Linked DNA regions of Homo sapiens. The protein of the gene in region 3 interacts with the protein of the main gene of each other region in a pairwise test. Each region holds a gene or a part of one and is shown on either strand. Other genes may lie near its edges.

Region 1 (2,796 bases), on a different chromosome or scaffold from region 3:
CTACATTCTGAAACCTCAAACTGAAAAATATCAATTAAGGATGAGCAATGAAAAATTTTGTTTTTTTCTCCTCTCACTAATGTATTTATATATTATCCCTTGCCTGTGTATACCACTCAGATTGTGGAATCTTTGGCATTTGACTTTCTGTTGTTCAACCTTGTAATTCTTTTGCAGGAGAAACTCTTAAAGCAAATGAGGATTTTATGGAAAAAGATTCAAGAAAATCAGAGAAATCTATATGAGGAGGGAAGAACAGCCTTCCTCTGGAGGGTAAGTATGAGACCGTGAGTCCTCCTGACCAGCTTGAGACAGGCATGCTGACAACATTTATATTAGCAACTTGAGTTGAAATTCTTATGCCAGATTTTGTCATGTGTTTATTCATAGGCTGGAAAACAACCAGACTGTTCAACATAACGATTGTTCAGGTTTTCTGTAAATGCTTTTCAGATAAGTAAAAAATAAATATAAATTCTGAAGGGCAAGTATGTGCTTAAAATTAATAAGTATTTCAGACAGAGTTTTCTGTATAAAATTAATTATGAAATGTTGATTAAATAGTATATAATTGAGAAATAAAGGCATTTATTGGTGAATATGATATTGTCCAGGGGGAAGAAATCGGGTGGGAACAGTAATTTAAGAAATGTGCCTGTGCTGGTGAAATCTGATAGCAAAGGACCCACATGATGCCAGTCCGAGTAGGAGAAAATGCAACATGAGGAAAAGCTGAGGAGAAGGGATAAAAAATGACTGGGGCAGTGAGAGGATAAATATGTCATTATTGAGAGGAGAAACACAATGGAATGGGGATTAATGTTCTTAGAATGGCAGTGCAATACAGAGTCTATGGATTTGACAGAAGAAAGATAGGAGACAGAAAAGAGGTAGTCAGTTTGAGAGATGGGGGTTAAATTTTTTACTAAGATCCTTTTTGTGTGATGGCTTCTGATCCTGATTATAATATACTAAAAACATTTCTACTAAGAGTGATTGTTCAGGCTGTGAAGTACAGAGATTTGAAACAACAACCTAAGTGAATAACAAAGATTATGTGTATTATCCATGACAATGTAACAATCATAAATTTTAGTTGTTTTCTAATTGTATTTCCGATTTGATTTAAACATTTAAACCTAAAGGGCTTTTTTGCAGGTGTTTGGGAATTGATGAATTACATAAATTTTGAAGGAAGGTCTTGCTTAACTCATCATCCTGTTTGTAAAGGATGGAAAATAAAAGAAGGAATGAGGAGGATGAAGTTGTAGGCTCTGTGAGGTGGAAGTAGGCCTGGGTATATAACCTACAAAATTCATATCCCTACAGGGCAATGTGGTTTTACGGGCACAGATGATCAGGAATGAGTATAGGAAGCTGCATCCGGTTCTCCATAAGGAAGAAAAACAACATTTAGAGAGACTGAACAAGGAATACCAAGAGATTTTTCAGCAACTCCAGAGAAGTTGGGTCAAAATGGATCAAAAGAGTAAACACTTGAAAGAAATGTATCAGGAACTAATGGAAATGTGTCATAAACCAGATGTGGAGCTGCTCCAGGTAAGAATGGAGGATGCCCCTTGAGACACTTTGTGTTAGCTGACCTTTACATCTTTGCCTTCCATTGGGTACCAAAGACATTATTTCCTCATCTCCTGTACTGACGGTGAGAGTCATTCCCACCGGTTATAGAGATAAACTATAACTCCTACGCTAATCATGGAAATAAAGCTTTATGGAATTGTGCAACTAGATTTCCATACAACATTTTCTACCACAAGCTTCCTCCTCCAGCACATTTCATTAAAACTCTGGAAGAAAAAATTTCATGCTTGATTTGAGCCACATTACACTTTGGGGACTAGCCCTGAAAAAGACCACATTGTAGACAGCTGCAGCAATGCGCAGTCACTACTCACACCTTTCTCTCTCACTCAAATTTAGGGTCCTTAATTTATCAGAAATCCATATTGTCAATAGGTCTTACTGGTATAATTGTTAGAGATGAGAATACATTTTAAAAGAGTGGCAGTAATAGTATACGGTAATTCTAAAGTTTTGAAAACCTAAAGACCAGATAGGCAGAATAGCAACTTTTTTGTGTGTTTATTTTGAGACAGAGTCTTCTTCTGTCACCCAGACTGAAGTCCAATGGCCCAATCTCAGCTCACTGCAACTTCTGCCTCCTTGGTTCAAGCAATTCTCCTGCCTCAGCCTCCCTAGTAGCTGGGACTAAAGGCATGAACCACCACACCCCACTATTTGTGTGTGTGTGTGTATTTTTAGTAGAGACGGGGATTTGCCATGTTGTCCAGGCTAGTCTGGAACTCCTGACCTCAGGTGTTCCACCCACCTTGGCCTCCCAAAGTGCTGGGATTACAGGTGTGAACCACCTCACCCAACAAGAATAACAACTTTCTAAAGAAGTCATTTTTTTTTTCTCTCTCTCTCTACAGGATTTGGGAGACATCGTGGCAAGGTATGTTTTTGGCCGTCAGTGCAAACTGGAGCACAAGGCATGCTATGAAAAACATCAAGCTGTTTCCAACAAAGTGAAAACATAATTTACTAACACCATAATGTGTCAGTGTGATTGTGTGTGTATGTGTGTGTAGTCATGTGTTTATGTGGTATGATGAATGTCATCTATGCCTTTTATCAGACATTAATCTTTTCTTACTTTCCCAAGTGACTCAGGGGTTTATGTTTTGAAGAGTGCAATGCAGAGGTTGCTAGAATACAGTTGCCTCTTTTTGCGATTCAGAATCATAATTAGAGATAAACTATTTGGTGGCA
Region 2 (3,657 bases), on a different chromosome or scaffold from region 3:
CTCTACTAAAAATACAAAAAAAAAAAAAATTAGCCGGGCATGGTGGCGGGTGCCTGTAGTCCCAGCTACTCGGGAGGCTGAGGTAGGAGAATGATGTGAACCCGGGAGGTGGAGCTTGCGGAGAGCCGAGATCGCGCCACCGCACTCCAGCCTGGGCAACAGAGCGAGACTCCGTCTCAAAAAAAAAAAAAAAAAAAAAGAGAAGTATTAGACCACAGATGGGGATATCCTTAATAAGGCATTGTCTGTATTACATAGGAGACTTACTGTATGGGTGGACATTATAGAGAAGGAAGAAGTTCAAGAAGAGCTTAGAGAGTAAGTGATTAATCCCTAGGGAAATTGTGCTTTCCCTCTGAGGGCACAAAGGATACCACTGTGTTCTCTTATCTGAAGCTCCATGATACTAGAGTCTGACATGGAAGATTGTCTTCTGTATCATTGATCTGACTAGGATGGCATTTTAAAATGTTCTCTTTCTAAATGGAGAGAAGCAAAATTGTGTCAGTGATCTTAACCAGTAGAAAAAAAATGCAAAGAAAGTATAACCTGTTTCTGGAGAGGTAACTTTTGACTGATCAAGCAAAAATTTTCCTCTTTGGTAAAGACTGATCTTCATGATAAGTGGTAAGTAAATTAAGCACCTTTTAGAGGAGAGGTAACTCTAATAGTTTCATTCAACAAAAGTTGACTGAGTGCCCACAATGTTCCAGGCACTGTGCTAAAGTCTGAGAGAGATTGACACAGTTTCTGCCCCTGAGAAATTTATAATTAGGTTGGAGAGACAGACCCATAAGCAGATACTGCAACATAGTGTGGTAAGCTCTGCATTAGACACACACATAAGGATTTATAGGGAACCAAAAGGGCATTCTCTAAGCAGCGTCTCAAAAGATACCATTGAACATAGCTAAGAATATCCACCACAGGGGCCCTGGTCTCACTTTGTTGATGAGTGTTATAGAGCAAAATGATTAAATTGAAACTTTGACAGTTTAATACTCTATGGGTATATTAATGGCATGCTTGTTGCTACATTCATTTCAAAATGAAAGTTGAAAAGCTTTATTAAATGAAGTGAGAAGATTCTGTGCATTTGACCTAGTGCTACTAGGTGGTTCAGAGGGTGACAATGGGGTGCCCCATATGATAAATGAAACGTCTATGAGGATAAACTAAGAGATTGTAAATGTAGAACTGAGTGTGAGGGAGATCACTTAAAACTCTAGTCAAGGTGACCTGGGTATAATCTCAAAGAGAGGATTGGAGTGTGGCTGAAAAAATGATACTTGTTATTACATGTACCAGACATTATTCTTAGGACTACTTTCAGAAGTAGGTATTTTTATTGTTCCCTTTTTGTAGATGAAAAAATAGGCTTAAAGAGGTTAAGTGTAACTTGCTTAAGATCACACACACAGAGTAAGTGGCAGTACTATCTGGTTGCAGAGCTCATGCTCTTTCCCATTCAAGCTTATACAGTCTTAGAGAGGTTTGAGTAAGTAGGAACTTAACTAATTGTGATGTACTTTGTCTGGAAAAAGAATTTGAATAGATATTCTCAGTCCAGCGCATAGGAGAGGAAAGCCCAAAGAGCTGTTCTCAGTACCTACCGCACTACCTGCTGCACATCACAGAAAGGGCTAAATCTGGCAAACACAGATGTAGACCCCAGGGAAATGTTCTTGGATGTGGGTTAGGGATGGTTCTGTAGGCTTCACTGTGGCCTAGATAAATCTTCCTCCCTTTGTTCTTGCTCCATACTTGTTAGTTTTTCATTGTTCATTTGGTTTTACAGGTACCTAGCCACTCAGAAAGAGGGAGCCTTGGATAGTAGTCACTGAAAAGGACTACTATTTCAAACCCTCACTTCAACCGTATTCCTCGTTGTCAAACAGCTTTCTGCATTAGTCTCATGTGAGCTGGGGTAGCTGAGTGTGGGTCTGTTCTGTTCTGGGGCAGTGACAAGATCCAGATTCCTCAACCTATTAATACAAAGGTGAGGCCACAATTTCATGGTGTCAGTGACAGCAAGAGGGAGTTCCTGGAGTAGCAGTGCCGTGGGGCCAATGCCATTCATGATGGCATGGAGGCTGCAGTATCATGCTCCTTGGAGGAGGCAGCAGTGGTATCTTGCTTGGTCCTGGAGTTTCATGTGATTTAGAATGCAGATGTATTATCTTTGGCTGTGTATTCTCAGAATCTGGGTCTTTAGACCTCTTGATGAAACTGAGCTACCCATTCCACTTACATTATAATAAGTTCATTTTTGTCTTTAGTGGAAAAAGAAAAAAGAAGAGGCCTACAACTTGGATTGCTATGAATTCACCAAGGTAGTGCCATACTGTTAGGCACTGTATGTATGAACAGCCAGCCCCTCTTGCTTTGCCAGGACACTGCACTCACATGCTTGTGTGTGTGTAGTCAAAGCAGATTAAGATTAGGATACCAACTGTAAGGACTAATTACGGCAGTTTGTCACAGCTTCGCCAACCTAGCCTTTTTTTCTTCTAGATTTTTTAGGATTGAAGGCAGAAAGGAAAAACATCCTTCAGGAAATCCTTCAGGAACTTTTGGATTATTGAGATTTGCACTAAATTGGATACAGTTTTACTCATATTTATCACCTACTTTCTTTGCCCTAAGTACTTCTCGAGAAAATTTAACCCTGCCAGAATTTATTGAAAAATGTAACTTATTCCTAAATAACTTGAATAAAAACCTTAAGCCATGACTTCAAATAGCACATCAGTAATACCTAATCATTTTAGCTGTTTATTTCTGTATGTGCATTTCCTAGCAGTCTACACATACAGATGGTTCCAGCTGGTTTTAGTTTTGCACCATTTCTCTATTTTATCAATCTGCTATTATAAATACTAGGAAATAAATGTTTAAAAGGGGGAAAAGAAGCAAAGGGTGTAGCTGATGTGCAGATTGGGATTGAATGTGGGAATGAGGGGTGATGGGAGTGATTGGAAATATTGCAGCCCTGCATAGTCTCCATCAGGGATGTGACAAAGTGGATAATCTCTACCACGTGAGAAACTTCCAACATTACTTGCAAATCAGATTTAATGAATAAAATAAAGCTGTAGCACTTGGCACATTCATTGGGACCCTTACCCAAACATTATCAATATTGTGTACGTTATCTTTATTATCAGGTCACAAAAGATGTCATAAAAGAATTTGCAGATGACGGCGTCAAGTACCTGGAACTAAGGAGCACACCCAGAAGAGAAAATGCTACTGGTAGAATTTATACTTCTCAGCAAATGTACTGTCCTTTTCCTATGTGCTTTGATCACTCACATGTTTGTGAGTGGGAATATGAAGCACTAACTTTTATACTATTGTGTTGTTCTGTATTTCATTGAACCTTTAGTCAACAGTCCAAGTCCTCTCTCTGATGTACATTAATGATGTTCATTTTGTTTGTTTTAGAGACAGGGTCTTGCTGTCTTGCCCAGGCTGGAGTGCAGTGGTGCAAACATAGCTCACTGTAACCACAAACTCCTGGGCCCAACAATCACCTCAGCCTCTAAAAGTGCTGGGATTACAGGTGTGAGCCACCGTGCCCATCCTGATGTACATTATTAATGAGTGAGTTATTCTTAAGTAAAAAGTAGTAAAATTCCAGTCAGGCATTATCTG
Region 3 (3,657 bases):
GCTTAGATGATCCTCCTACCTCAGCCTTCCAAGTAGCAGGGACTAAAGGCGTCTGCCACCATGCCCAGCTAATTTATGTAATTTTTTGTAGAGACGGGGTTTCACCATGTTGCCCAGGCTGGTCTCGAACTCCTGGACTGAAGTGATCCTCCGGCCTTGGCCACCTGAAGTGCTGGGATTACAGACGTGAGCCACCATGCTTGGCCTGTCACCCCTTCTTAAAGACTATACACCTTTTTTTTTTTTTTTTTTTTTAGACGGAGTCTCCCTCTGTCGCCCAGGCTGGAGTGCAATGCGCCATCTCGGCTCACCGCAACCTCCGCCTCCCGGGTTCAAGCAATTCTCCTGTCTCAGCCTCCTGAGTAGCTGGGATTACAGGCATGTGCCAGCATGCATGGCTAATGTTTTTTTTTGTTTTTTTTTGTTTTTGTTTTTGTATTTTTAGTAGAGACGGGTTTTTACCGTATTGGCCAGGCTGGTCTCGAGCTCCTGACCTTGTGATCTGCCGCCTCGGCCTCCCAAAGTGCTGGGATTGCAGGCATGAGCCACTGCACCTGGGTTTTTTTTTTTTTTTTTTTGGGAGACAGAGTCTTGCTCTGTTGTCCAGGCTGGAGTATGGTGGCACGATCTCAACTCACCACAGCCTCTGCCTCCCGGGTTCAAGCGACTCTCGTGCCTCAGCCTCCTGAGTAGCTGGTATTACAGGCGCACCCCACCACGCCCAGCTAATATTTTGTATTGTTAGTAGAGACAGGGTTTTACCATGTTGGCCAGGCTGGTCTCGAACCCCTGACCTCAAGTGATCCAACTGCCTTGGCCTCCCAAAGTGCTGGGATTACAGGCGTGAGCCACCGTGCCCAGCCAAGACTATATACTCTTATTTCCCGTGAATACATTATTGACAGTTATTGAAAATATTGACTATAGCCCCAAAAGGCTTAACTGGTTAGAGATACAGGGCAGACAAAGGATAGATAAAAATGGTGGGGGCAAAGAGTAAATGCTATGGGATTCTAAAGGGTATCTGCATGAGAGAGATTCCTTTTTGTTGTTGTTTTGTTTTGTTTTTGTGACAGAGTCTCGGCTCTATCACCCAGCCTGGAGTGCAGTGGCTCCATCTCAGCTCACTGCAACCTCCGCCTCCCAGGTTCAACCAATACCTCAGCCTCTGGAATGGCTGGGATCCCGGGATTACAGGCATGCGCCACCACGCCCAGCTAATTTTTTTTTTTGAGACGGAGTCTCGCTTTGTCACCCAGGCTGGAGTGCAGTGGCGCGATCTCAGCTCACTGCAACCTCCGCCTCCCAGGTTCAACCAATACCTCAGCCTCTGGAATGGCTGGGATCCCGGGATTACAGGCATGCGCCACCATGCCCAGCTAATTTTCTTTTTTGAGACGGAGTCTCGCTCTGTCACCTAGGCTGGAGTGCAGTGGCGCTATCTCAGCTCACTGCAAGCTCCGCCTCTCAGGTTCATGCCATTCTCCTGCCTCAGCCTCCTGAGTAGCTGGGACTACAGGCGTCCACGACCACTCCCAGCTAATTTTTTGTATTTTTTTTTTAGTAGAGACGGGGTTTCACCGTGTTAGTCAGGATGGTCTCGATCTCCTGACCTCGTGATCTGCCTGCCTTGGCCTCCCAAAGTGCTGGGATTACAGGTGTGAACCACCCTGTCCGGCCACAATACCCAGCTAATTTTTGTAGTTTTAGTAGAGACAGGGTTTCATTGTATTGGCCAGGCTGGTCTTAAACTCGCGGCCTCAGATGATCTGCCTGCCTGGGCCTCCCAAAGTGCTTGGCTTAAATGGTGAGCCACCATGCCTGGCATGCCTGGACTTTTTTTTTTTTTTTTTCCCAGATGGAATCTCACTGTGTCACCCTGGCTGGAGTCCAGTAGCATGATCCAAGCTCACTGCAGCCACCACCTCCCAGGTCAAGCGGTTCTCCTGCCTCAGCCTACCAAGTAGCTGGGATTACAGGCGCGCCCCACCGCCCAGCCAATTTTTTATATTGTTAGTAGAGACAGGGTTTTATGATGTTGGCCAGGCTGGTCTCCCAAAGTGATAAGATTACAAGTGTGAGCCACAATGCCCAGCCAAGACTATATACTCTTATTTCCCAGTGAATACATTATTAACAGTTACCGAACATGTTGACCACAGCCCCAAAAGGCTTAATTGGTTGGAGATACAGGACAAAGGATAGATAAAAATGGGAGGGGCAAAGTGTAAATGCTATGGGATTCTGAGGGTATTTGAATGAGGGAGGTTCTTTTTTGTTTTTGTTTTGTTTTGAGTCAGAGTCTCTGTCACCCAGCCTGGAGTGCAGTGGCTTTATCTCGGCTCACTGCAGCCTCCGCCTCCTGGCTTCAAGTGATTCTCAGGCCTCAGCCTCCAGAATGGCTGGAATTACAGGCATGCGCCACCACACCCGGCTAATTTTTTTTGTATTTTTAGTAGAGACTGGATTTCACCATGTTGACCAGGCTGGTCTCACACTCCTGACCTCAGGTGATCTGGCTGTCTTGGCCTCCCAAAGTGCTGGGCTTACATGTGTGAGCCACCCCACCTGGAGTTTTTTTGTTTTGTTTTGTTTGAGATGGAATCTCACTCTCTCACCCAGGCTGGAGTGCGGTGACATGATCTTGGCTCACTGCAGCTTCTGCTTCCCAGGTCAGGCAGTTCTCCTGCTTGACCCAGTAGCTGGGATTACAGGCGCATGCCACCATACCCAGCTAATTTTCCTATTTTTAGTAGAGATGGGGTTTCTAGCCAGGCTGGTCTCGAACTTCAGACCTCAGGTGATCCGCCTGCCTTGGCTTCTCAAAGTGCTGGGATTACAGGCATGAGCCGTCGTGCCTGGCCTGTATGACTGTATGAGGGAGGTTCTTGAGCTAGGTGCCTTTTTTTTTTTTTTGAGATGGGGTCTCACTCTGTCGCCCAGGGGCACAATCATAGCTCATTGCAGCCTTGACCTCCTGGGTTCTAGCAGGCCTTCCACCTCAGCCTCCCGAGTAGCTGGGACTACAGGTGTGTGCCACCACACCTGGCTAATTTTTATTTTTTGTAGAGATGGGGTCTCATTGTGTTGCCCAGGTTGGTCTTGAACTCCTGGCTTCAAGCAGTCCTCCTGCCTCAGCCTCCCAAAGTGCTGGGATTATAGGCATGAGCCACCTCACCCAGCCTTCTTGAGCTGAGTTCTAGAGGAAAGTTAAGACTGACCTCAAATTTCAGGAGACAGTCCCAAAGGAATTCTGGTAATATTGCAATTTTTTTTTTCTGAGACAGTTTTGCTCTTGTTGCCCAGGCTGGAGTGCAGTGGCACAATCTCAGCTCATTGCAACCTCTGCCTCCCGGGTTCAAGCGATTCTCCTGCCTCAGTCTCCCGAGAAGCTGGGATTACAGGCATGCACCACCACGCTCAGCTAATTTTGTATTTTTAGTAGAGACCGGGTTTCTCCATGGTGGTCAGTCAGGCTGGTCTCGAACTCCGGGACTCAGGTGATCTGCCAGCCTTGGCCTCCCGAAGTGCTGGGATTGCAGGCGTGAGCCACCGCGCCTGGCCGAGATTCTTAAGTAAATGAACTTTTCTTTAGGCACATGAATTGGAACTATGGAACAAAGAGATTATTGATACAATTATTCAAGAAGCACATTT

What was found.
Region 1: the proteins of UBE2K (region 3) and TRIM43 interact in binary tests that used the Homo sapiens proteins (3 or more experiments, as listed by UniProt).
Region 2: the proteins of UBE2K (region 3) and MAPDA interact in binary tests that used the Homo sapiens proteins (3 or more experiments, as listed by UniProt).

The regions. Positions count from the first base shown.
Region 1 is NC_000002.12:95,594,873-95,597,668, forward strand, and holds part of TRIM43 (tripartite motif-containing protein 43), read left to right. Parts: intron 1-177; coding exon 178-273; intron 274-1,329; coding exon 1,330-1,560; intron 1,561-2,456; coding exon 2,457-2,479; intron 2,480-2,796.
Region 2 is NC_000015.10:43,337,098-43,340,754, forward strand, and holds part of MAPDA (N6-Methyl-AMP deaminase), read left to right. Parts: intron 1-3,167; coding exon 3,168-3,255; intron 3,256-3,657. UniProt on the Homo sapiens protein: Catalyzes the hydrolysis of the free cytosolic methylated adenosine nucleotide N(6)-methyl-AMP (N6-mAMP) to produce inositol monophosphate (IMP) and methylamine.
Region 3 is NC_000004.12:39,704,636-39,708,292, forward strand, and holds part of UBE2K (ubiquitin-conjugating enzyme E2 K), read left to right. Parts: intron 1-3,657. UniProt on the Homo sapiens protein: Accepts ubiquitin from the E1 complex and catalyzes its covalent attachment to other proteins. In vitro, in the presence or in the absence of BRCA1-BARD1 E3 ubiquitin-protein ligase complex, catalyzes the synthesis of 'Lys-48'-linked polyubiquitin chains.